Linked DNA regions of Homo sapiens. The protein of the gene in region 2 purifies or fractionates together with the protein of the main gene of each other region. This does not show direct contact. Each region holds a gene or a part of one and is shown on either strand. Other genes may lie near its edges.

Region 1 (7,027 bases), on a different chromosome or scaffold from region 2:
CTGCTTTTCCTGCTCTGTTCCTCAGACTTCTCCTCTTCAAGCGTATTCCCCCCACAACAAGGACAGCAGCTTGGACTACATATCTGGCTGATGATGTAATAAAAAGATTAGGCATGGGGGTTTCCTAAGCCACAATTCAGGGCCACTCTGCACCAACAGAGATAAGCACCCAGGTGGAAGCCCCCCTTCCCCGAGCCTCATACATTGTCATCATCTTCTATGGCCTCCCCAGTGAAGTACAGCACAGCCCGCGGGACTATCCGCTCACGGAAAAAGTGTCCAATTTCAAAATCAGAGGCTAATGTGAATTCAGAATCTTCATCCTGAGGAGGAAAAACCTACGTGTTAACTCATTTTAATGGGATAAAAACATTCACTTCACCACCCTCAGCCAAACCTCAGCCCCTCACTTTTGATTTACTTAACTTAAAACACCAAACTCCTGCACTGCTGGGGGACAGCCACTAGACACTCAAAGCCCCTTTAAAACAACTTTAAGTAGCTTTAAAGAGCTACTGAAGCAAAATGGCAGAGAAAGTGGGAAGTGAGGGCCCTACAGCTCCACAACTTGTCCAAAGGTCTCACCCAGAGTAGGCGGTATCAGTCTCACATATGGGAAACAGGCAGTATTAAAGCACTGCACATTTGCTACTGAAATCAACATATGAAACACATACTTTTACTTAGATGTGTAATGATTTCAAATTAATCCCAGAGTTTTAGGAAACAGAAATGGATTTTTTTTTTTTAAGAGACAGGGTCTTATTCTATCACCCAGGTTGGAGGGCAGTGGTGCAATCACAGCTCACTCCAGCCTCAAGCTCCTGGGCCCCAGCGACCCTGGAACTACACAGTGCACCACCATGTCCAGCTAATTTATTATTTTATCTTTTGAGACGGAGTCTTGCTCTGTCGCCCAATGGAATACGGTGGTGCAATCTCAGCTCACTGCAACCTCCTCCTCTCGGGTTCAAGTGATTCTCCTGCTTGAGCCTCCTGAGTAGCTGAGATTACAGGCGCTGCCACCGTGTCCAACTAATTTTTTTTTTTTTTGGTATTTTAAGCAGAAACGGGGTTTCACCATGTTGACCAGACTGGTCTTGAACTCCTGACCTCTGGTGATCCACCCACCTTGGCCTCCCACAGTGCTGGTATTACGGGCGTGAACCACCATGTTCGGCTGGCTAATTTATTTGGTTTTAATTTTTTGTGGAGATGGGGTTGTGCTATGTTGCCCAGGCTGGTCTCAAACTCCTGGACTCGTGCAGTCCTCCCACCTCAGCCTCCCAAAGCATTAAGATCACTGGCATACCCAGTCCACACACAGCCAGGACTGGACTTTTTTTAACAAGTAGACAAGTAGACATTCACTCAGGAGAGACTTCAACAGGAAAATAAGACTATTAACAACAAATCTTACCAGTGATTCTCCATCCCCGGATGCTAGAAAAAGAAAAGACAAAACATATTTAAATTACAGTGACAACTCCCAGAATTTTAAAGCCCACACAGGAGGAAGCTGTGCTGGTAGATAAAATGTAACATTTCTCACCTCGAGGTTTAACAGAAATCCCCAAAGCCTTGCATCTCCTCACAGACATCTTTGCAAGCTCCATCCACCACTTCTGAAGCTGGCCTGAGTGCCTCTATGCCCCCCTCCCTTCTCCTCCTCCATCATGTGCCATGGGCTGGCACTCAAGCTTGAGAAGATCATTTTGAGAGAGTTAATATATTAACAGGAGGAATGGCAAACAGCCCCCAGGCTGTGGCCATTCAGTGCATTTGTGCTTTATGGGGAAACTTAACTCATGTCCCGCAGAACTATACATGATGGTGCAGGAAAGAGAAAGTCCTTAAGCCTTATAAGCTGTGAGTGTTACTAAGGCACTGCAAATCAGCGAGACAGAAACTGCATTTCTGTTTGTTTGGAGAGTGCTGGAATGCCCACCAGGGGCCCCTGTAGAGTGGCGCAATTCCTCAGCGAAAGCTGATGCTCAGACGAGCTAAGCCCACCAAGACAGATAGGGACTTCTAACCACACTCAATGAAGCTGTGCAACGTTCAACTGGTAGAAGATCCAACCCCCTGATTTTAGAAACATTTACTACAAGACCCTGAGCTTCATCAGGAGTTGAATGTTTACTCTGCTTAGTCTCATACCTGCCTTTTCAATCTTCACTGGGCTCTCCTCTCTGAGTCTCCCTTCCCATTAAGCGACCACAACCCTGGCAGCACTTGCTGTTTGCTGCTGAGACATGAATGTTGGGTGCGTAAACACCACCCATGAGTGAGGCAGAGTTCCCAAGCCTCGGTGTGCCAGCATCACCCAGGGGTTTTAGACATGGGTTAGGAGCATGGCTGGGTGTCTAAATGCTGGAGCAGCATGCTCCCCAGGGCACTCTGGCCCAAGTCATGAATAGTACAAGGACTCTGAACACTCATACTTCTGGACTGGCTTTGCAGTTTTAAGGACAAAGGAGCTGGACTCACTAGCTAATGCCTCCTTCACTTCACACCACAGGAGTCCATTTTGTCTGTTCCTTCACTACCCCATTACCTATTCCGCAGCCATCCTCAATTTTTTTCAAAGCACTTACCATTTGGTATTATGTGTTTGATTACTTTAAAAGTGGCTTTACTGATGGGATTTACATACCATTAAAAGGCATACACTCTAAATGTACAACTTTATGACTTTCAGTACGTTAATTTTAGAGTTGTGCAACCATCATACCCTAAAAGTTTTAGAATCTAAAAAAAAAAACACTTAAAAATTCCCTTGAGTCCATTATCAACTCCATTTTTATCCTAAAAATTATTTTTAAATCAGTTTTAAGAGAACTTCCTACACAAAGTGATTCCAGAAATTAAAGCCTCCCTTCTTCACGCTGAATTCACAGACAATCTCCAGTATGCCCAACCCAAGTGTCTAAAAGGAATCTTCCAAAAAAAGGAAATGTAATATCTAAATTTATGACTGCTCTCATTCCCCAAACCGTATGTATTTGCATCTTCTAGGTTCAAAGTCTAATTGCAGAAAATAGGCACCACAATTAAAATAATGGACTGAACTCTGAAGGGCAGCTTGATAAATAAGGGTGCTAAGCTCAGAGACAAAATCAAAAAATCAATCACTCAGACTGGAGAAGAGATCCGCCCTGTGGCCCCACATACAAACAAACACTCACTGATTATCTGCAGCAGGGGCTGGCATCTCTTCACTTCAAATTATGTTTTAGTTCATGGAAACTAAAGAGAATATGGATATTTTAACACTGACAAGTTGCTTGACCTTCACATTTTCTCGCGATTAGGAAATTATATGAAAAATCCCAAGAAATTTACTCTTAAAATCAATTGGTCAACCTTTACTAGCTCAAAGGTCTCATCTTTATTTTACCACTTAGGAAAATTTAAAAAATAAATAAATAAACAAAAAGAAGCAGCTTCCAAGCTGTGATTCTGCCGATGTTTTTCAAAAATGAAAGTCCCAACTACTTGTGTTTCTTACAATATATAAATTCCAAAAAATTCTATCAAATTATGCATAAAAAATTACAAGAAAAGGGGGACTAAGCAGATGATCCAAAAGCAGCACAACTAGAACCAGCGTACAGCAGTAACGGGTACCTGCAGAGCAAACCCAGCAGCTCTCCGAGGCTGGGAGTGGTCCCCGGGGGGTGCGAACCAGACACAACAGCGGGGCAGAAATGCCAGCTGGTGGAGAAGGGTGCTCCAGGTGTCCAAGTGAGGAAGCAGCCCAGGTGCAAATACTCGATTCAGTTTTCTTAAAACAGAACTGCAAGTTTTTGCCTGGGCTACAGCCAAGCAGAGTAAAGCTCTTCCCTTTCCTGCAGAAGATGACAATCCTACTCTTACTGTCCTAGCTACCTCTGCCCCCCGCGATAAACTTGCCAGCGCACCAACAGAACAGCCTGGGACACAGCAATGTGCCCCTACTGACCACACTTGCCTGAAAAAAGAGGACTAAAGTCTCTGGGTGTTAGGAATCTATCAGGTGACCAAAATTATTTTATATAAGAACATAATGAATATTAACAACCAACAGACTTGCCTTTCAATGGATTGAAGAAGTTGAAAAAGGACTCATTGGGTACTTGTTTCGTAATTGTTCTAACAGTGCCTCGACCCTTATGCTTCTGCTTTTTCTTGATGGTTTTGACAGTAACATTCTTTCCTTTCTTCCAGTCAATAGTACACCTACCAGGACAAGACAGCTGTCAGGAACACACAATCCATGAGAAAAATCCATTACAAATGCATGCAGGAAGCAAACCACAGCTCTATGCCAAACCTGGAAAACGAAATAAAACCAATCTGCAAACCAAATACAATGGCCCATGAAGTTCATCTGGAGGTTGGCAAAAAGAGAAACAGCCTGGTCCTCTTTCAACTTGGGTGTGACCACTGGAACTTCAGACTTCTGGAACAATGGTATTATTTTCCCAAGACATTTCATCAGGACTCTGAAATGTATATTCTGTGGCAAAGCCCCGTCAAGTCTGCATGATGCACAAGAACTTGTCCGCGGTTTCCCAAGGAAGGAGGAGTTGCTGCTGTTCAAAGCAGCCAACTGAGCACGACAAGCTGAAAAAAGGAAAGAGGTGGCCACCGGGAATACTGATGGCCAGTGCAGACCACTCCAGCCCCAGGGATGCTGGCGAGGGCTGAGCACAGCACGCTCTCTCTAACACACAATCACCACAGACCCAGGCAACACCTGGCAGATCTCAATACTGCCCGCTTAAGAACATGCTTGGTAAGGCCAGGCCTTTTTCTCACATGATGTCCTGGCCCTGGAAAATCATCTTTCTAAATTACTCTAGCAGGATTTTAATAAAGTCCTGAATTAACAATTACTATTTACTTCTGGTAAATAAACGTAATTGTTTCAAGTCAAGACTAAAACCATTTCTCAGTCAACCCAACCTGGAGAAATTAATTCTAAACCAAATTCTCTCTTTAGTGATTTATAAAGACTGAAATCAGTGAGTCAAACAACAGCTATGCTGCCCCCACCTATTTCCAAAGCAATCAGCTGATCAATATAGCCCTGGACTCAGACTCATTCATTCAATAAGTATTTATTTGCTGAGGGTAATCCATGGATTCAATTTTAAGAACTTCAATTCACGATGTCTAGAGAATCCACTACTTTCATTAAAATGAAGAAACAGGGCACTATCCCAAAGGCTTGCATGTGCAACCACGTGACTCATTTCCCAGGTTCAGCCGCCATCTCCAAGTTCTGCACTATGAGCATTCCCAAACTGAAAGACTATTGAAATATACATCTACCAGGCTTTTAGGCTTTTAAGCAGACTCAAGACTGTACTTTATTCCTTACTTCTATCTTACCCATCAAGTTACAAAATTATCTTTTGATTTTGTTTCAGAAAAACAAGGTAGAATGACATTTTCTTACCCGTCACAGTCCACAATCTCAGGACCTTCAAAGGAAAAGGGATCAGCCTTATCTGGTTCTGATTTCATCTTGTAGGTTTTTGTCAGGACTGAGTTGGTAAAGTAGTCGTTGGGTTCAAAGTGGAACTCTAACACAAAAGACTAAAAGTAGAAATTCAGAGTAAGCACCAGTTAAAATAGAAAAATAACGAGGACAGATTGCTTGGAGTACACAACACTTACTAGAAGCTATTTTGGGAAAGCTCAACAGATAGGGCCATGAACAAGAAAAACTTCTCCACCGCAAAAAAGACTAGCGTGAGGTTAAAAAAACCAACGATGGACTGGCGGGAAATATCTGTTCAGTTCATGAGTAAGGGGCATGTTCCCCCTCCAATGCCTCCTCACCAATAGGCGTCAAGCTCTCCTAAGAAATCCTAGCTTCTCTTAGCTGCTCCCAGCCCTTGCTTCCTGGAAGGAGGGAAGGTGACTAGGGGAAAGTAAGGGGACCAGCAGTCCATCCTCCTCCTGTCCTTTTCCGCTCAGCCTAAGCCCCAGCCCCCACCCTGCTGGGGGAAGCCAGGGTCTCTACTCTGTGCTGTGCAGTGAAAGCAGTGACCCACAGCTTTTCTCCCGGGAGGTGGGTGGGAGAAAAGGACAAATCTCTACAAGGACAGAAAGCTCATCCCTCACTTACAAAGCACGCTACAGACCTGGAAGAGACGTGAGCACACCGGGAAAAAGGATGCAAACATGAACGCAGGCATAGAACAACCAACAGCAGCAACAAGGCATTCATGCTCACGAGTAACAAAACACATGAACACCAAAATGAGATGCCTTTCTTTGGGGCAAAATGTACAAAAATATGTAGACCCGGCCAGGATTTTGGGGTACTGAGCACACTCATGTACTGTCGACAGATTTTATGAAGGACAATTTGGCAATATCAAAAAAAATTAAATTAAAAGGCATATTCCCTGACTCAGTAATTCTATTTTGAGGAATTTGTTCTATTTGAGAAAAATACCTGGATGGATGCATCGATATGTGCAAAGACATTGACCTCATCCCTATTTATAGAAGAAAAACATGGAAGATGCGCTTGGTTGAGTAATTTATAGACAGTTTACAAGACCAGTTCTACGCTCAGACAGCCTGGATTCAAATCCCATCTCTGCCTACACTGCTAGGCAACTCGCGGAAGCTACTCAATGTCTCCGTGCTTTAGTTTCCTCATCTCTACACTGGAAATAACTCTCTCCCTCTCTAGGAGCTGCCTTGGTGGTTAATCTGTATCACTTAGAGCCGCGTTTATAGGCAAGGCTGGCTAAATGTCAGCTGTTTCCATTTTCATTGTAATGGTAAAACCATCAACGGGGGGGAAATTAAGAGGACTAAAAAAAATATACAGCAAAAAAAGTTTATACATTCAAACAAACCACTTGCACAAAGGAGAAGTGAAAAAACAACTTTCAAAGAAAGGTGGAGGAGGAGGCGGGGCATGAGGGCTTAGGAAGTCAGGATCAGGGAGACAGTCTAGTCGGTTTCTAGAAGGGATGACAGCAGGATCTGGCTAGGAGCTCTCCACTGGCCTTGGCAA
Region 2 (7,027 bases):
TCATCAAAATATCTAAGTAGAGATATTTCGTAAACAGAACTGGAGAAAAATTTTAAAAAATCTGAGCACTAGAGATTAAATTTTAGGGATCAACATAATACTAAGAGATAAAATGTGAGAATGGACAGGTTTTCTACTCTGTTCTTGATAATGTGGAAAAAGTACAATGAGTAGCTTGTTTTGTTGCCATGTTTCTTAGAAAATAGGACCAAACACCATTGAGAAAAATTCAGCATCTGTTACAGGAAAATTAGATACTGGTCCTTAATAGCTGATAGTAGCAACTGTATCTTTATATGCTTTTTAATTTTTATTTTTATGGATATATAATAGTTGTAAATATTTACAGAGTACATGTGATATTTTGATTCAAGCACACAATGAGTAATGATCAAATCAGGGTAAATGGGATATCCATCACCTCGAACATTTATCATTTCCTTCTATTAGGAAACTTCTAATTCTATTCCTCTAGTTATTTTGAAATATACAATAAATTATTGTTAACTATAGTTGCCCTATTGTGCTACTAAACAGTAAATCTTATTCCTTCTCACTGTATTTTTGTACCCATTAACCAGCCTGTCGTTATCCACCCCTCCCCTCTCCCTATCCTAGCCTCTGGTAACCAACATTCTACTTCTATCTTCATGCGATCAACTGTATATGTTAAGCCCTGCTTCTACCCATGGGCTTCATCCAAAAATTCCTCTCACACTAGTGTGCCTTCCTAAACCATCTTTAAAACCATCATTGATTCAATAATTCATCAACTCTGGGAGCTGAAGAAAAATTCTTATACTATGAACTTAAAAAAAGATGATCTGGTAACAGCTTCTGAAAATGTGTGTGTGAGAAATAAGCTAGGAATAGTGAAATACAATTAGCATAGACAGGTTGGTAATTAGGGTCTTCATCATTAATGACAAAGAGTATGAGGAATAATACAAAGTTCAAAGAAAAAAAGAATGAGTAAGAAAACAAATTTTGCCAGTAGTTAAGTCACCCAGCAAAATGGCCCAAAGCACTAATAAGAAAACCAAGTCTTAACTAAATGATTTTATTCACTTCCTACGTCTCTGTCCTTACTCTAATCCTTATGAACCTGAATTAATCAAGTATATAATATTTTTAGATTATATTAATTAAAGGCTATGCTCTATCTCAAAAAAGCAAGACAGTACGAGAGATGTATTTTGTTTCCTTAATAAAGAAAATATCAACAAAACCAACCATATAAATTAAGCATAACAAATATTTAAAATAAAAATCAATAAGCAGTGTTATTTTATGTAAAGACTTAGCTATCACACACAAATACTTTTACACTCTCCACAGAACTATGATACATTACCGTGTTCTCTCTAGTTTGGTATAGAAGCAACCTTGAATAATTTTAACAGCTTTTAATATAGCTAGATATTCTTTGTGTGCTCTCCAACATCTATACCAGGCTTGAATCTTGCAGGCAGCTTTCACTTTACATAAATATTTCTTGGCTCTATATCTCCTCCACATAGCCTATTAAATACATAAATATAACAAGTATGCAATGAGTTGTCTCTTTTTTTTTGTAAATAAGACAAATCAGTATAAAGACAGTTAAAATAAGGTTAGTGCAGACAAAAATAAATTGCATAGTCATATCATGACTCTTTTAGACTTTGACATGTAATGAGTCTTCTGAGAACAGTGGTGCTTACTATAGTGAACACGTATTATGTGCTTTATCACACATACCTTATGGCTGGCTGCCAGCCCAGCCTAACAAAACCCTAACCAGTATTTATAAATTGTAAGACACACATGTCTGAAAAGCCCCACATTATGTAAATTATCCTCATCACCTCAATCCATTTGGAAGAAAAGAAAATGAACACATTGACCTACTGCAGGTTCTGGGGAGAAAGAGGAATTCTTCCCAATCCATATTCACTTTGGGTTCTGTGTTCAGCCTGCAGGAGAATCCTGAGAGCTCCTGTGATAGGACTGTCAGACTTTCTGATTTTGACAACCTTCTGGAAGACTAAAGGTTTACATGACAGCTACAACTTATTGAACTAAGCACTAAGAAGATTAGTCCTTAATAATCACATGGGTAGATAATACTATTATCTCTAATTTAGAGATGAGGAAATCAAGGCCTAGAGAAATTGAGTAACTTGTTGATGTCACACAGGTTAATAAGTGGCAGAGTTGTCTTACTTAATATTTATAAATATCTTATAAAATGGTTAAGATCTCTGTTTTATAAAAAAGGAAAAAAATCCAAAATTGAAATTAAGAAGGACTTGTTAGCATATAGCTGTTAAGTGACAGAGTCAAGATTTGAACCCAAGTCTATTTGACTCCAACATCCCTACAGGAAGAGGAATTAAAAGAAATTAAAGACTGTGTAAGCAAAAACTCAGTTGTATGTAAGAAAACCCAATTCCCCTTGGGAAGAGAAAGGGCTGGAGTCCTTTAAAATTAACTGTGTTTTTCTCTCTGTGGCTAGTGAGCCTTATCTCTCCCTTTCCCAGGCATTGTGAAGACTGTTTCTCTAGCTGTGCAGCTGCAAGGACACTAGACAGATAATCTCAAGTTGTAAAACATGTTGTTCCTTAAAAAGTAAGAAATAATGTAATGCATCTCTTACTTGAATAACTGTCTTTGTTTCTCTCTTCTGTAATACGCTTCCCCCTGCACAGATCTCCCCATGCCCCACGAAATGCTTAAAAGGTAGCTTGACTCTTTGTTCAGGGCTCAGTCCTCTTTGGATGTTAATCCGACTGGGTCGGTGCACATAAATAATTAAATAATTCCTCCTCAAATCCCTCGGTCTCTCTGATTCCTTAATTATCCCGCAGCACAACAAATACTATAGGCACAACGTATATTTAGATTAGGTTCTAAATTCAGTTGATAATGCAATAATTATATATGGCCAAAATTACTCTGAGATGACCTTAACTCATTCAGACTATATTGTATACGGTTTTTATGTAAATCTGCATACATTATTTATGTATATCCCCAATACCTGCCACCTCAGTCTTAATCAGTGGTAGAAGAATGGTCTCAGAACTGTTTGTTTCAATTGGCCATTTAACTGTAACAGTAAAAGACTGGTTAATGGTAACACTGCATCATAAAACCTTCAGGAGGAAAGGAGAATGTTTTGTGGACCATTTTGGTGTTTTTGTTTTTGTTTTGCTTGTGGCAGTTATAAGTTACTAGTTTTTAAAATCAGTACTTTTTAATGAAAACAAATTGACCGAAAATCTGTCACAGAATTTTGAGACCCATTAAAACAAAGTTTTAATGAGAAAATTATATATATGTATAGATATACGTGTGTGTATATATATATTTACAAATATATATATATATACACACACACACATCACACCTGAAGAACATCAAAATTTACAGACATTGACAAGAGAAGCCAACATAGCGTTAAGAGGGAAAGAAGACAGCTAAGAGATTATGGTATCAAGAAACCAAGGGTTGAGAGAAGAAACAAAGTGTGCTTAAATCCCAAATGCTACAGAGAAGTTGATATATATATATATATAAAACATACATATTTACATATATATGTAAGTATTTAGTAATGTATACTATATCCCAGTGGCTCCCAAACTTCGCTGCTCATTAGAGTCACCTGGGAGCTTTGAAACAAATCCCACGCTTGTGTTGCTTCCCATACCAATTAGAATATCTAAAGGTAGGAGTATGTTTTAAAATTCCAGGTGACTCCAATATGCAGTAAAGTTTTAGACCACTGGCATAGGCTAAAAATTATATGTGTAAAATACAATTTTATTATGTAATTATGTAAGAGAAAAAAATTTTTATAAGATTGTTATTTTGGCTATTTAATCATTTTAAGTGAATAAAACCATAACTAATACATCCAATGAACACCTTTCAATTGTGAACTTCTCAGTAGTGTTAGGAATTTGATACCATAATCTCTTACCTTTCTTCTTTCCCTCTTAACACCTTGGTTTCTTGATACCATTAATCTCTTACCTTTCTTCTTTCCCTCTTAACACCTTGTTGGCTTCTCTTGTCAATGTCTGTGAATTTTGATGTTCTTCAGGGCTCAAGTCCCAGGCCCTCTTTGTTCACTCATTTTATGTATTGTTCCTTGGTGATCTCATTATTCCCAGAACTTTAATTATTAGCATATGCCCATAATGTACAAATCAAATTCTAATACTCACACTACTCTCCTGAACTCCAGACAAACATAGTCAACTGCCTTACTAGATATTTCAAGGGGGTTACCTGCTAGGTACTTCAGATCTTATATACTCCAAACTGAATTCATCATCAATCTCAAAACCTGCTCTTCCCTCTTTATTCCCTATGTCAGGGTGTGAGGGAGTAACTCTGCTGAGTTACTTAAGCCATCAACATGGCTTGCCTCCTTGTTCATGCTCTATATAATGCCAACTTACAATCCCATTGTCACAAACCTACACTGAACTATAACTCTTTCTCACCTGGCTTACTGCCTATTTTCATTTGGTCTACCTGATTCTAGTCTTGCTCCTTTTCCAGTCCATCTTCCACATTCCTGCCAGAGTAATTTTTTTTTTTTTTTTAATAAAAATGACTGTGGTCTTCTCCTGCTTAAACTCCTCTAGAATTTGTTTTGTCTGGAGCATAAAGACTAAATTTTTTCTGTCTTAAAAATCTATCCACAATCTTACTCCCTCTATTGCCAACCTGGTCCCATATCACTTTTTATTGTTTCTAGTTTTTTGATTTTTCCACGTTATCTCTTGCAATTGGAATATTCTTCTATACCTTTTACTGGGCTATTTCTAATTCATACTTCAGTGTAACATTTCAACTTAAATGTTACTCACTCTGGGAAGTCTCTGACCATGGAGACTAGCTTGATTTCCCATTCTGTGTTTCCTGAAACATACACTTCTCATGTTGTATTATAATTATACTTCCTTGTTCAATTAAGTTCCTTGAGGACAGCAACTAAGTATATCTTACTCATTGTCTATTTATAACACCCACTACAGCATTTGGCACATTTCTAGCACTTGACATTTCTTGAATTAAAACATTATTTCTAAATTTAACAGTAATCCAGTAAGATATGAACATATCACATCTGGGTTAAAGCCTGGGTTATTGCAGGTAAAAAGAAATAGCTGAAGTACTTAGATTCAGTTCCTGGATCTGCCTCTCTCTATGCAACATTGGCCAAATTACTTAAACTTTATCACTTCCTTCATATTTTAAAAGAGATAATACTGTACATTCCTCACACATTTGGCAAATAGACAAAACAAAATAATACAAAATTGATTTGGAAGCCAAAGTACTAAACACTCAGAATAAAGTATGTCTACTAGCCTAAGCAGCAAACAGCTCTGGTTAATAGATTATTAGAGGAACAAAGTTACTCTATTTTGCCTATATTATGCCAAATAATACTTTATCTTAGCTTATATTTTCCACTTAAAGAAATAACTTTGCCAAATACAGGACTCCTATTTTCTCAAAATTCTTCTAAGAGTGCTACAATTAACCCATACTGAAATGCACCACACATAGGGTGACCATGGCCAGAACAATCCCCGTTCTGTGCTGTCTTGGCTGACTTACTAGTGCCCTTTCCCTCTTTCAAAAATGTTCCACTTTGGAAGATAAATGGTCACCTCAACTAAGTACTATTCTTTATGACCTGCTTAAGCTCATTTTATACATTCTAACAAATATTGGTCAAAAGAAAGACTCACAGTTTTATATTTAAATTAAATATAGAAATACCTGAATTTTTATGGTGCTATTTTTAATTTCCTGAAACTTCCGTTTCTGTATAAATCCTTTACTTCTAGCTTGAATAATGATAACACTGCTTCTGATCTGTAAATAGACTTGTCTTTGATGTTTTGCAGACAGAAATGCTCTGTAGTGATTTTGTAAAACCACTGCTGCTTTTCTATATAGTAAAAACTGTTTTCTGGTTTGCCACGTCCTAAAATAATGCTGTAAAGTGATAGCAGCTCTTTTCTGCTGAACAAATCTTCTCCGATACACAGCCATCTGAAGGAAGAACTGAATCCGTAGGGCAGCACATTTCTGTGTTTCCAGTTTTCTTGTGACCATTCTACAAAAAGCTTTTTGAATTGTTACTGCAGCCCTACTTTGAGAATGATACTCTGCTTCCTGTGAACAAGCAAGGCCAGAAGCTTTATACCACTCTTGAATCATAACACCTTCACTTTGAACAGCTTCATACTGAGTTTTACTTCTGTAACAGCAGAGTGCAGATTGGTTAACAATGGCTGCCATCTTTTCCTCTGATACATTTTTCAATTTTTGTCTAACTTTCATGCCTCTAAAAGCAGCCTGAATAGTTCGTACAGATTTCTGAACTGCTAAAAAGTTTTTTCTTTCTGTTTTTACTCTAACATACAACCTATAATAATTCTGTATAACCACAATTGCAGTTTTCTTTGTTTCATAATCAACTTTGGCCCTGTGCATTCGATAGAATGACTGAATTAGTGTGGCAGCCCGGTGCATATTTTGAATATCCTTTCGTACTTTAAAGCCTCTGTAATAAGACTGTATACAAATAACTGCTTGGGTACGCACTGCAGTTAGTTTTCTGTATCTTCTTTGAATAGAAACTACTGTTGCTCTAAGGTGGAGATAATGCTTCCTTATTTTAAAGGCTTTACAATGCTTCTGAATAATAATGGCAGCCTGGTGCTGTTCCTGAATCTGTTTTTTTATGTTCATGTCCTGAAAACCTGCCTGAACACAAGTCTCTTTCTTAAGTTCATTGTGTTGAAATACTTTCTGTTTCTTTTTATTTGCTCTATATTTTTCTTGTATGATTTTTGTAGCCCACTGAAGCTTTTGGTAGAAACAATACTGCCTATACATTCTGTAGGTGCTTTGTATTACGATAGAAGCTTTGTGTTTTTCCCTTAAAAGTTGTCTTGCTTTCATTCCTTTATATGCAGCCTGAATAACCACAGCAGAATGCCATTGTCTGATA
Region 3 (7,027 bases), on a different chromosome or scaffold from region 2:
AAACTCAGAAATCAGAGAAGACTTTGAACAGTGAAAGATAAAAATGAATTGGTAGGTTGTGGCCAAAAAATTTAAAGAGTATGAATTTTTTGTGAAGGGTTATACATGATCAGATTTATGCTATAGGAAAATGAGTTCTTGAAGCACTGTGAAGAATGTAATGAAGAATGTAATTCAAGGAATGATGACTATAAAACATGAATGAAAAACTATTAGTACAACAGGTAGTAGCAACAGGCCTCAAAAACCTAGGCCCCTATTCTACTATACAGCCAAGCTTCCCTGCTGCTTTCTCTGCCACCCAAAATAAGCTCAACTTTAAAAAATAGAAAAAGAAAAACGCACACTCTCACATCAACGAATTTCCCAATATGGCCACCCTTTTAACTTACAATCTTATCCCTGCCCCCTTACTAGCATTCCACTCACTAACACTGTAATCAGAAATTGCTTTCCCCTCTGACTGCGTGGAAAATTAATAATAATTTTAAAAATTAAAAGGCTGGGGGCGATGGTTCACGCCTGCAATCCCAGCACTTTGGGAGGCCGAGGAGGGCGGATCACGAAGTCAAGAGATGGAGACCATCCTGGCCAACATGGTGGAACCCATCTCTAAAAATACAAAAATTAGCTGGGCGTGGTGGCGCACGCTTGTAGTCCCAGCTACTTGGGAGGCTGAGGCAGGATAATCACTTGAACCTGGGAGGCAGAAGTTGCAGTGAGCCGAGATAGCACCACTGCACTACAGCTGGGAGACAGAGAGAGACTGTCTCAAAAAAATAAAAAAATTAAAAGAAAAAAATTAGAAATTACTTTTCCAAGGTTACTGATACTTTAATGCATTTTCCCAGAAAGTCTTCAGTTTGTTTAACCTCTCTCATTTAGGAGTATCAACACCCCTTTCTTTTTTCTAAAAATTTTTTACTCATTTTCAAAAGTAATTCATGCTCTTTGGTAGAGAATTTATTAAATCTATGTAAGAAAAAGGAAATTAGGCCTGGTGTGGTGGCTCACGCCTGTAATCCCAACACTTTGGGAGGCCGAGGAGGGTGGATCACCTGAGGTCAGGACTTCGAGACCAGCCTGGCCAACGTGATGAAACTCCTTCTCTACTAAAAATATAAAAAAATTAGCCGGACGTGGTGGTGGTTGCCTTGTTATCCCAGCTACTAGGGAGGCTGAGGCAGGAGAACTGCTTGAACCCAGGAGACGGAGGTTGCAGTGAGCTGTCACTGTGCCACTGCACTCCAGCCTGGGCAACAGTGAGACTCCGTCTCAAGAAAAAAAGAAAAAGAAAAAGGAAACTAACCACTAACCACAAGCAACCTTCTTAAAATTATCTTTCTTGGCTTCTCTCTTACTTTTATGCCCAAAATCTCCAGTCTGCTTTTTCAGATGTTTATCAAAGTACCCAAAATAGGCATGGTTGAAAGTTTAGCCCTCTAGTCCATCCCATACCTTTGGATCATACTACTGTAATCACCTGCCTGCAGAAGAATATCACTTTTCCATTGCTGCTTTCTCTCCTAAACTTCAGCTCCACATTCCAATTGCCTGCTAGACTTTTTCTACTTGATGTTTACCAGCTCCTCAAACTAGACACTCTGTATGTAACTCATGTCTTCAAAATCAGTTTTCCCTCTGGACCCACATTTTCCAATGTAATCACTAATGTCAGTATCTTTTAAAACATACTCTTCAAACCCGTAACTTTTTTTTTTTTTTTTTTTGAGACAGAGTCTTGCTGTCGCCCAGGCTAGAGTGCAGTGGAGCAATCTTGGCTCACTTCAGCCACTGCCTCCCAGGTTCAAGCGGTTCTCATACCTCAGCCTCCTGAGTAGCTGGGATTACAGGCACGCAACACCATGCCCGGCTAATTTTTGTATTTTTAGTAGAGACAGGGTTTTGCCATGTTGACCAGGCTGGTCTTAAACGCCTGACCTCAGATGATCCACCCACCTTGGCCTCCCAAAGTGCTGGGATAACAGGCCTGAGCCACCGCACCCGGCCAAAACTGTAACTTTGTATTATTTCTCTCCATTGAAATATAACCAAAGAGACTTTCAATTAGCTACTATACTTCAGACCATTTTTAAGGAACACAGGAGGTAGAAGAATCCCGTGCTATCAGATTTTTACATTAAATACAACCAGGTAATTTCAAGAGCCAAGGAACTTCTAACCTTTCTTGTTACTAAAGCATTTGACAAGCCGGGCACAGTGGCTCACACCTGTAATCCCAGCACTTAGGGAGACCAAGGTGGGCGGATCTCGGGAGTTCGAGACCAGCCTACCAACATGGAGAAACCCCGTCTCTACTAAAAATACAAAATTAGCCGGACGTGGTAATGCATACCTGTAATCCCAGCTACTCAAGAGGCTGAGGCAGGAGAATTGCCCGAATCCGGGAGGCGGAGGTTGTGGCGAGCCGAGATTGTGCCATTGCACTCCAGTCTGGGCAACAAGAGCGAAACTCCGTCTCAAAAAAAAAAAAAAAAAAAAAAAGAATTTGACAAAGGCAAATATGACATCTACCTTGGCTACATGAAATATAAGGCATAGTGAGGTTAAGTCATTATAGTCGTAGACTCAGGACAAGGCTAAGGCTCTTCACTGCGTCCCTCTGCCTTTGTTAAAAAAACAGTAATAAGCCAAGTGCAGTGACTCGCACCTGTAATTCTAGCACTTGGGAGTCAAGGCTGGGCAACAAAGACAGACCTCGTCTCTACAAAAAATAAAAAACTTAGGCAGGTGTGGTGGTGCACGCCTGTAGTCCCAGCTAGTTGGGAGGCTAAGGCAGGAGGATAGCTTAATCCCAGGAGAGTCAAGGCTGCCGTGAGCCATGTTCATACTACTGCACTCCAGCCTGGGTAACAGTGTGAAACCCTGTCTCAAAAAATAATAACAATAAAAATAATTTTAAAATATTATTTTTATGCTTTCCAACTAGGAAGTTTTATGTTATTTTATTTTTTAAGATGGAGTCTTGCTGTCGCCCAGGCTGGAGTGCAGTGGTGTGATCTCTGCTCACCGCAAGCTCTGCCTCCCAGGTTCATGCCATTCTGCCTCAGCCTCCTGAGTAGGTGGAACTACAGGCACCCACCACCATGCCCAGCTAATTTTCTGTATTTTTAGTAGAAATGGGGTTTCACCATGTTAGCCAGGATGGTCTCGATCTCCTGACCTCATGATCCACCCACCTCAGCCTCCCAAAGTGCTGGGATTACAGGCGTGAGCCACCATGCCCGGCCAGAACTTTTATTTTATTTTTCTTTTTTTGAGGCAGAGTCTTGCACTGTTGCCCGGGCTGGAATGCAATGACGTGATCTTGGCTCACTGCACCTCCGCCTCCCGGGTTCAAGTGATTCTCCTGCCTCAGTCTCCCAAGTAGCTGGGATTACAGGCACCCACCACCACACCCGGCTAATTTTTCATATTTTCAGTAGAGACGGGGTTTCACTATGTTGATCAGGCTTGTCTCGAACTCCCGACCTTGTGATCCGCCCACCTCGGCCTCCCAAAGTGCTGGATTACAGGCGTGAGCCACCGCATCTGACCTCCAACTAGGAACTTTAAAAAAAAACTTTTTTATTAGAAATCATTTAGCAGCCGGGCGCTGTGATTCATGCCTGTAATCCCAACACTTTGGGAGGCAGAGGCGGGTGGATCACCTGAGGTCAGGAGTTCAAGACCAGCCTGGCCAACAAGGTGAAACCCCATCTCTACCAAAAATACAAAAATTAGCCAGGAGTGGTGGCGGGCGCCTGCAGTCCCAGCTACTCGGGAGGCTGAGGCAGGAGAATTGCTTGAACCCAGAAGGCAGAGGTTGCAGTGAACCAAGACTGCGCCACTGCATTCCAGCCTGGGTGACAGAGCGAGGCTCTGGCTAAAAAAAAAAATTTTTTTTGTATGTTGCCCAGGCTGGTCTCAAACTCCTGGACGAGCGATCCTCTTCCTGCTTTTACCTCCCAAAGTGCTGGGATTACAGGCGTGAGCCACTGCGCCCAAACTCTTTCAGATCTTTAACAAGCTATATCATTGAATAACTTGCTATCTAACAGCCGAAGTATCCAGGGACTTTCCTTCTCCCAAATTCAGAACAGTACTTCAAAATATTCCTGGTGAAGGAATGTTATCTAAACTACAGGCTACTCTGGTCTTCCTAAAATATTTTGCTTAATTTCTAAACATTCCAAATTATCTTACAAATATGCCATTATTTTACACTTTTCCAGACCTAAGATTTTCATTAAATACTTTTAATAAAATGGAATCAAATGAACCATTTATAAGTAAGGTATATCACATACAGCAGTAATAGTTAACCTTTTGTGACAATCCCAAAAGTGATCCAGGGTAGTGTGAGTTAAAAAAAAAAAAACACACACACACACAAAATATCAAGAAACTTACCAAAAGCAAGATCACTTTTTCATATAAAGCAAGTGAGAAAGTAGCACTGCTGCCTGTACATATAAAACCATTAGGCCGGGCACGGTGGCTCAGGCCTGTAATCCCAGCACTTTGGGAGGCCAAGACGGACGGATCACCTGAGGTCAGGAGTTCGAGACCAGCCTGGCCAACATGGCGAAACCCCGTCTCTACTAAAAATATAAAATTAGGCCAGGCGCAGTGGCTCACGCCTGTAATCCCAAGACTTTGGGAGGCTGAGGTGGGCAATCACCTGCAGTGAGGAGTTCAAGACCAGGCTGGCCAACATGGTGAAACCCCGTCTCTACTAAAAACACAAAAATTAGCCGTGTGTGGTGGTGCATTCCTTTAATCCCAGCTACTCGGGAGGCTGAGGCAGAATTGCCTGAACCCGGGAGATGGAGGTTGCAGTGAGCCGGATGGCACCAATGCACTCTAGCCTGGGCAAAAAGAGCGAAACTCCACTCAAAAAAAAAAAAAGGTGTATATACATATATAACCATTATATACCATATTGAGCTTAGGAACTAAGAGTTTAAATGTCTCCTGGGTAAACCCTCTAATTCCACTTACAGCATTTTTCTTGACTGCGAATATAACAGGGGAAAGACTATTGATGCGGAGATCATATCCACCTTAGCCAAAATCAGATCTAATAGTTTCGTCATCCAAAACTTACATGTAGCTTTATTATAGTACTGACCACATGTATTGTATGGGCCAGTGACGTGGTGATTATGGAGCTCTAGAAAGGCAGTGATCATAAATTTCTCTGCATCTAACTACTTAGCTCAGTGCCTAGCACACAGACATTTGCTGTTACATGAACCAGACTGGGAATTATCCTTCGGAATGAGTATTTAATAAAAATCTTCCTGGCATTATATTTAAAAACACCGGCTGGTGTGGTGGCTCATGCCTGTAATCTCAGCACTTTGGGAGGCCAAGGTGAGTGGATCACTTAAGGTCAGGAGTTCGAGACCAGCCTGGGCAATGTGGCGAAACCCCGTCTCTACTAAAAATACAAAAATTGGCCAGATGTGGTGGCACCTGTAGTCTCAGTTACTCAAGAGGCTGAGGACTGAGAATCGCTTGAACCTGGGATTGGAGGCTACAGTGAGCCAAGATCATGCCACCGCACTCTAGCCTGGGCAACCGAGTGAGAACCTGCCACAAAAATACTAATAATAATAATAATAAATTTTAAAAAATAAATAAAAGAGCTAAAGCCTATACTGTTATTTATTAATATTATAACAGGAAGTCAGTCATAAAGCCTATTACTGGGAAATCAAGGAATAACAATAACAAAAAATAACAATTCATGACCTCAAGAAACTTAAAATTATAGTGGGGAGAAGAAAAGTTAAGTAAAATTAGGCCAGGCGTGGTAGCACGTGTCTGCAGTCCCAGCCACCTGGGAGGCTCAGATGGGAGGACGCTGCTTGAGGCCAAGAGTTCTAGGCTGTAGTGTACTATGTAGTGCAGTGGAGCCCACTGCACTCCAGCCTGGGTAACATAGCAAGGCCTTAGCTCTGAAAAAATTAAAAATAAGCCTGGGCAACACGGTGAAACCTTGTCTCTACAAAAAATACAAAAATTAATTGGGCATAGTGGCACATCCCCGTAGTCTCAGCTACCTGGGAGGCTGAAGTGGGAGTGTTGCTTGAGCCCGAGAGGGAGAGGCTGCAGTGAGCCATGATGGTGCCACTGCACTCCAGCCTGGGTGATGGAGCAAGACCCTGTCTCAAAAAATAAATATAAATAAATAGGCTGGGCATGGTGGCTCATTCCTGTAATCCCAGCACTTTGGGAGGCCGAGGTGGGCGGATCACAAGGTCAGGAGTTGGAGACCAGCCTGGCCAACATGGTAAAACCCCATCTCTGCTAAAAATACAGAATTAGCCAGGTGTGGTGGCAAACGCCTGTAATCCCAGCTACTTGGGAGGCTGAGGCAGGAGAATTGCTTGAACCCAGGAGGCAGAAGTTGCGGTGGGCTCATATTGCGCCACTGCACTCCAGCCTGGGCAACAAGAGCAAGACTCCGTCTCAAAAAAAAAAAAATTTATTTATTTATTTATTTTTATTTTTATTTTTTGAGACGCAGTTTCGCTCTTGTTGCTCAGGCTGGAGTGCAATGGTACGATCTCGGCTCACCGCAACCTCCACCTCCCGGGTTCAAGCGATTCTCCTGCCTCAGCCTCCCTAGTAGCTGGGATTACAGGCATGCGCCACCACGCCCAGCTAATTTTGTATTTTTAGTAGAGACGGGGTTTCTCCATGTTGGTCAGGCTGGTCTCGAACTCCCAACCTCAGGTGATCCGCCCGCCTCGGACTCCCAAAGTGCTGGAATTCCAGGCATGAGCCACCATGCCCAGCCAATGTTTTAAATTTAATTAATTAATTAATTTTTTTGAGATGGAGTCTCACTCTGTTGCCCAGGCTGGAGTGCAGTGGCACGATCTCAGCTCACCGCAACCTCCGCCTCCCAGGTTCAAGCGATTCTTCTGCCTCAGCCTCCTGAGTAGCTGGGATTACAAGCATGCGCCACCGCGCCCAGCTAATTTTGTATTCTTAGTAGAGATGGGGTTTCTCC
Region 4 (7,027 bases), on a different chromosome or scaffold from region 2:
AGTTACATATGTACATAGTCTGTCTCTGAACATTTTGGTAATATGTTTTCTGAAAAGTGCTTATCAAGTTTCCTGTAATTCTCCTTGGACCCATGACTGTCTCACATATATTTTTGCAGAGGAATGCTTCTTTAAATTATACTATGTGTTTGTGCTAATTGTAAATGTGTTTATTTTAAATATTTGCTTAGAAATAAAATTTTTCCCTTTATACTGCTATAGAAAACATTTGAAGCAATTCACCCTTCTAAAATTTGAAATCTAAATAGAACATTTACTTCTAAAAGTTTAGCAGTTGAAAGATTGTCAATTGTAATAGATTTTTCTTCTTTGTTTTGCAAGGTGCCAGATAGATTGGAAAAAAGGAAAGAATGTCACTTTGAAAACTATTAAGAAGAAGCAGAAACACAAGGGACGTGGGACAGTTCGTACTGTGACTAAAACAGTTTCCAATGACTCTTTCTTTAACTTTTTTGCCCCTCCTGAAGGTAAATAATGTTTTAGCTTGAGTATTAACGGTTGTTTTATAAAAAGCATTGCTTAGCTTCTTATTCATTGTAATTTCTTTTCTCAATTTTGCAGTTCCTGAGAGTGGAGATCTGGTAAGTTGAATTGTTATATATTTATTGAATTGTTAAGTATATTTGAAATTAAAGCACTGAATTTCAAAAATGGAGAGTGGGATGGTTGTTACATTGAGTTCTGAGGCCTACAATGCATGGGGCAGACTTTTTGGATATGAAAAATAATTCCATTCAAAATTATATCAGTGCTTCTGCTGAGAAACACTGAGATAAAAAGCTTAAGGTTTTCTTTTCTTTTGAAACTTCACATATTGCTGTGAGGGATTTAACTTTTCAAAACTGTTGTCTTCCTTAGTAAAACCAGAATATATTAAGTCACTTATACTGTTACATTCCTAACTACATTATGGTTCAAATTCATTCCTGAATTTGTTACTCCAATGTAAATATGGTTTCATATTGTGACTAAGTATGTTCACATATATGGCATATGGCAAAGAACATGAAATGTTCCTGCCATATAGACTGAACTGAGGAACAACCTTAAAGAAAGTCTATACACACAAGGTAGGGCAGGTATGTTTTGAATTTGGTTTTCTTTTGGGCATGTTTTTGAATTTAAATTAACTGAGATAGTTTAAATAGTTTGTACATATATGGAATTAGAAATTAACCTAAACTGAATACTTTTGAATTGGAATACTCTTGGCTAAGACTTAGAACAAATTTGTAAAAGGCAAAAGTAAGTATTTCTGGCTTGGCTTATAGGACAAAAAAAGAGAACATAAAGCAGTGTGAATTTCAGGTGAGAAAAACTACTTTAAGTATTAAGATAGAGCATCACACTATTTTCATATCAGTGGATGGGTTGGAGTTTGTGTTCAAGTTTGGGGTTTTTTTTTGTTTGTTTGTTTGTTTGTTACTAAATATTGATGATGACAAAACAGTCTAGTTAAGGATAGAAAACCTCCACCTGTGGTTTGAATTCCTCCCCACCCCCTTTTGGATTTTTCTATTTATTAGATTATGTTGTTGACTCAAACATTCATGGAATTCACAGAGGGTGTGCTCATTGTTTAGTATCATAGAACTTGTATCATTGTTTAGTATCATAGAAGTGGGATTATTTTATTTTATTATTATTATTTTTTTTTTGAGATGAAGTATTGCTCTGTCATCCAGGCTGGAGTGCAGTGGTGCGATCTCCACTCACCACAACCTCTGCCTCCCGGGTTCAAGCAATTCTCCTGCCTCAGCCTCCCGAGTAGCTGGGATTACAGGCACGTGCCATTGAACTCGCTAATTTTTGTATTTTTAGTAGAGACGGGGTTTCACCATGTTGGCCAGGCTGGTCTTGAACTCCTGACCTCAGGTAATCTGCCTGCCTTGGCCTCCCAAAGTCCTGGGATTACAGGCATGAGCCAGGCCAAAGTGGGATTATTTTAATTGTGAATAATGTCAGACCCACTTTTGCCCTGTGCTTTTCTATTAAATAGAAATCCTAAGCCAGGTACAGCTTCAGGCACCTGTAGTCCCAGCTGCTCTGGTGGCGGAGGTGGAAGGATCACTTGAGGCCAGCCTGGGCAACATAGCGAGACCCTGTCTCTAAAAAAGAAAAGTGCTAGGGGCACCTGATTTAGTTAGTATATTGTCTTTCTGAACTAGGACTGTCTCATTTGGGATTAGTAGACTTAAAACTGTACAGCTGTTTGGGTACTGTCTTTTAGGAACTATAAAGTGATCCTCTGTGGTTGTTTATTATGTCCTTCTATTTGCTATGTACTTAACAATATTAACAATAACTATATATTAACAATAACCCAAGGGTTTTTTTTTTTATTTTTCTATTTGGTGTTTTCAATAATATTTTAAAAGGAAAATTGCGGACATGTAACAGTTGCTTTTATGTATTTATGTTTAAACCAGCAAAAACTAAGCAGTTCTAATTTTTATTCTTCACAATTTATCTTAGTATGCATACTGGCCTGCTAGCTTATTTTCTTTTTGTTAAAAACTTGGAAAAGTTATTAAGGAAATTTAAAAATGACAAATCATTTGTTAACATGGTGTGAGAAAAATCATGGAAAGTAAAAAGTAAAGTTGAGCATTTCTTCCCTTCATCATATAATTTAAACTGAAGAGTCTGTCTTTTTTTTTTTTTTTTTTCGGTTGCCCAGGCTAGAGTACACTGGTGTGATCACAGCTCATTTCAGCCTCAAGCTGCTGGGCTCCAGCAATCTTCCCACCTCAGCCTCTCAAGTAGCTGAGACTACAGGCGTGTGCCACCCTGCCCAGTTAATTGTTTATTTTTTGTACAAACGCAGGGGGCGTCTCACTATGTTGCTTAGGTTGCTCTTGAACTTCTGGGCTCAAGTGATCCTCCTACTTTGGCCTCCTGAAGTGTTGGGACTACAGTTGTGAGCCATCACACCCAGCCTCTAAGAGTCTTACATGTGCCAAATTAAGTAACACAGTTATTCCTAAATTTTCTGCTTTTGTTTTCCTTTAAAAATAGGATGATGATGCTGAAGCTATCCTTGCTGCAGACTTCGAAATTGGTCACTTTTTACGTGAGCGTATAATCCCAAGATCAGTGTTATATTTTACTGGAGAAGCTATTGAAGATGATGATGATGATGTAAGCGAATTTGAATCCTGCAAAGAAATAATTGGTTGAGGGTATAGTGGTCAGAATTGGTAATAGATTAGTTTAGTTTTTAAGAAGCAGGACATAATATAATTCAAAATTAGGCTAATTACTGATGTTCTGTATATAGCTTTTCTGGGTTTTAAGTATGTCTCCTTAGGATTTTTGGATTCATTTATCTTAGCTTTTAATTTTCTGCTAATAAGATTGTTCTGAGTTTATGAAACTTTTTTATGTTTGGTTAGTGCTATAGATCTATTATGCCCTTGCCTTGACTTCACAGAGCTAGGACTTTCTTTAGTGCACAAGAAAACATTTACTGGGAGGCATAGAATTTCTATTCAAGGTAGTATTGAATGATGGTTAGGTTAAGATTAGGTTGCATATAGATGTTTTGAATATGTTTATTGCTCAACGGCAATTGTTAGAGTAGGCTTTAGGTCCTTTTCGTACAGTGCATTCCACACTTAAGTGTAGGTGAGTAATATTTACAGTAATACTTGTCTGATCATCCACTTTATCCACATGATTGTACTCTGTTCTTTAATTTTATAAATTGGCAGTGAGCAGAGTGATTCTTGCAGCTACTATGTGTTTTAATTTATAATCAGCCCCTTGATAGGAAAGTAGGTTTTCTCTTTTTAGACACTAGTTTATACAGTGATAAATGTTACTGATGCTACTCTGAAATGTGTGTTACATTCACTCAACACTTAACGCTGTTTTTCCTTTTCAGTATGATGAAGAAGGTGAAGAAGCGGATGAGGTAATGTTTACCAAATGAGCAAATAATTCTCTGTGGTTAACACATTGAGAAGCAAATTGAATGACTTATGTATTCCTTTGCTATAATCATTCTGTGATTTGGGATAAAAACATTTTGGAAAACATGATTTTAGAATTCTACAGCCAAACAATGTATGTATAAGGTTTCAATAAATAAATTGCAAAACTCAGCAACATTTTTTTATTTCAAATAATTTTGTTCTGCTGCAGGGTTATCAGCTCTTTGAAGAAGTCAAAAGCTGCAGTAAACTTTTCCAACGTTGGCTGCAGTAACTATTTTCAATAAAAGCTGTCTGGATGTCTCAAGTTGTGTTGGGAAATTTTTCATATTAGAAGCTTTCAAATTAAATTGTATTATCATCAAAGTCTGTAATCATGAAAATCTGTTGATCCGTAGAGTAACTTGTATTAAATTTTCCCTACATTATGAGCCAGTTTACCTACTATGTACATACTTCATGGATGCATTTTGAACTTTAATATAGGAAGGGGAAGAAGAAGGAGATGAGGAAAATGATCCAGACTATGACCCAAAGGTGAGCAAAATTAGTGCTGCTTTCTATTAAATTTAAGATAGCTAAAGTAAGAGTTGGTGTTTTTGAATATCAAGTTTCTCTCCGTTAAAGTCTTTAATAAATAAAGCCTATTGACTGGATAACTTTGTTTTTTCAGTCCCACTGGCATTGTGAACAGTACACATAATTTCAGTGGACGTTTTTCTAAAAAACATTGTTTTTTGTTTGGACTTCGTGCTTTTTATAGTTTCAGGTACAGTGAACCCTAGGATTCTATTTTAATGGGACGATTTGTAACAGTTTTTAAGCATTAGAAAATAAAGGTTTTTAAAAGATCTGGTTGTAGGAGTGTTCGGGAACTGGGGAGCAGTGCAGTTTGTTAGATCCTTCCAACTACTCTTACTCAGTCCCTGAGAGTCCTAGTCTATTATTCCTGAGAATTTGTTATATTAGGATTAGCAAAAACAAAGCTGATTGGTAATATAACTAACATAAATTGCTTGGTAACTTTATTTTTTTAAGATTATGGTTTAGCGTGTGTCACATTTTATGGAGTTAATTCTACAGTGTAAAGTTTGAGCTTGATTTTAGCATTTCAGTGACTTGCTAATAAAATAAATAATTTACCACCATTGTCCTATACCATTTCTTTTGACAACAGTGAGCTACTGTTATAATTAAGGCAGTAATTACTATTGAGAAATTCACTGAAGCAGGTAGAAGAAGATAGATTGACTTGTTGTTTTCCTTTAACAGAAGGATCAAAACCCAGCAGAGTGCAAGCAGCAGTGAAGCAGGATGTATGTGGCCTTGAGGATAACCTGCACTGTAATAGCCTAAACACAACTCTTATTTACTTACAGCCTTATGTTTTTGTATTTTCTTGGTAGACTAGGTAATTTTTTTTTAAAGGACAGGAAACTGATATTTTAAAGACCAATTTGTTCTACCTAGCATTTTAACTAGTTTTTCTGCCAGCTATGTTGAATGCACAAATTCTGTCACGCATGTTCATTCATTGCTACATAATTTGGTTCTTCTGGAATATTTTTATGTAGCTCTTGGAGTACAGCTATGAAAATTAACAACTGTTAAAGGAAATACCTTTTTTTTTTTTTTGTAATTTTTTCCTTGAAGAACCAAAGTATTTTTTCAGCTGGTTGTTGAATAGGGTTAAGTCCGCTTGGATTAGCTGTGCCTTTCATTACTTTGTTACAGAAATGCAGTGACTTATACTAAGACAATTTATTGTTTAAAAAAAAAATTGGCAAGACAACTATATGGTTAAGAATTTCCAGTATGACCACACCCAATAACTGTTATTAGAGTGTTAATGGATTATTGTGTTTTAGGTGACATAGTTAACTGTAAAGTAACCTGACTCAGTATAGTTACTGGTACCACAGTGAGGTGAATAAAACGGGATTTTCAGAAGTTAGCCTGAATTTAACTGTATTTTTAAATTTAACCTCCATTAACTAAGCATCTTTTCTTTGTGGTAGGGTCTACCTTCTGCTTCCCTGGAAAGGATGAATTTACATCATTTGACAAGCCTATTTTCAAGTTATTTGTTGTTTGTTTGCTTGTTTTTGTTTTTGCAGCTAAAATAAAAATTTCAAATACAATTTTAGTTCTTACAAGATAATGTCTTAATTTTGTACCAATTCAGGTAGAAGTAGAGGCCTACCTTGAATTAAGGGTTATACTCAGTTTTTAACACATTGTTGAAGAAAAGGTACCAGCTTTGGAACGAGATGCTATACTAATAAGCAAGTGTAAAAAAAAAAAAAAAAGAGGAAGAAAATCTTAAGTGATTGATGCTGTTTTCTTTTAAAAAAAAAAAAAAAAATTCATTTTCTTTGGGTTAGAGCTAGAGAGAAGGCCCCAAGCTTCTATGGTTTCTTCTAATTCTTATTGCTTAAAGTATGAGTATGTCACTTACCCGTGCTTCTGTTTACTGTGTAATTAAAATGGGTAGTACTGTTTACCTAACTACCTCATGGATGTGTTAAGGCATATTGAGTTAAATCTCATATAATGTTTCTCAATCTTGTTAAAAGCTCAAAATTTTGGGCCTATTTGTAATGCCAGTGTGACACTAAGCATTTTGTTCACACCACGCTTTGATAACTAAACTGGAAAACAAAGGTGTTAAGTACCTCTGTTCTGGATCTGGGCAGTCAGCACTCTTTTTAGATCTTTGTGTGGCTCCTATTTTTATAGAAGTGGAGGGATGCACTATTTCACAAGGTCCAAGATTTGTTTTCAGATATTTTTGATGACTGTATTGTAAATACTACAGGGATAGCACTATAGTATTGTAGTCATGAGACTTAAAGTGGAAATAAGACTATTTTTGACAAAAGATGCCATTAAATTTCAGACTGTAGAGCCACATTTACAATACCTCAGGCTAATTACTGTTAATTTTGGGGTTGAACTTTTTTTTGACAGTGAGGGTGGATTATTGGATTGTCATTAGAGGAAGGTCTAGATTTCCTGCTCTTAATAAAATTACATTGAATTGATTTTTAGAGGTAATGAAAACTTCCTTT

What was found.
Region 1: the proteins of ASPM (region 2) and NAP1L4 purify together in Homo sapiens (affinity purification with mass spectrometry; 2 studies listed by BioGRID and IntAct, with this or other methods). This does not show direct contact.
Region 3: the proteins of ASPM (region 2) and IPO7 purify together in Homo sapiens (affinity purification with mass spectrometry; 2 studies listed by BioGRID and IntAct, with this or other methods). This does not show direct contact.
Region 4: the proteins of ASPM (region 2) and NAP1L1 purify together in Homo sapiens (affinity purification with mass spectrometry; 2 studies listed by BioGRID and IntAct, with this or other methods). This does not show direct contact.

Annotation. Positions count from the first base shown.
Region 1 is NC_000011.10:2,954,324-2,961,350, forward strand, and holds part of NAP1L4 (nucleosome assembly protein 1-like 4), read right to left. Parts: intron 5,587-7,027; coding exon 5,447-5,586; intron 4,222-5,446; coding exon 4,076-4,221; intron 1,444-4,075; coding exon 1,421-1,443; intron 324-1,420; coding exon 204-323; intron 1-203. UniProt on the Homo sapiens protein: Acts as a histone chaperone in nucleosome assembly.
Region 2 is NC_000001.11:197,094,644-197,101,670, forward strand, and holds part of ASPM (abnormal spindle-like microcephaly-associated protein), read right to left. Parts: coding exon 5,788-7,027; intron 1,522-5,787; coding exon 1,355-1,521; intron 1-1,354. UniProt on the Homo sapiens protein: Involved in mitotic spindle regulation and coordination of mitotic processes.
Region 3 is NC_000011.10:9,387,650-9,394,676, reverse strand, and holds part of IPO7 (importin-7), read right to left. Parts: intron 1-7,027. UniProt on the Homo sapiens protein: Functions in nuclear protein import, either by acting as autonomous nuclear transport receptor or as an adapter-like protein in association with the importin-beta subunit KPNB1.
Region 4 is NC_000012.12:76,046,666-76,053,692, reverse strand, and holds part of NAP1L1 (nucleosome assembly protein 1-like 1), read left to right. Parts: intron 1-342; coding exon 343-488; intron 489-582; coding exon 583-602; intron 603-3,039; coding exon 3,040-3,162; intron 3,163-3,907; coding exon 3,908-3,937; intron 3,938-4,167; coding exon of another isoform or gene 4,168-4,230; exon of another isoform or gene 4,231-4,442; coding exon 4,443-4,493; exon of another isoform or gene 4,494-5,104; intron 5,105-5,228; coding exon 5,229-5,264; 3' UTR 5,265-7,027. UniProt on the Homo sapiens protein: Histone chaperone that plays a role in the nuclear import of H2A-H2B and nucleosome assembly.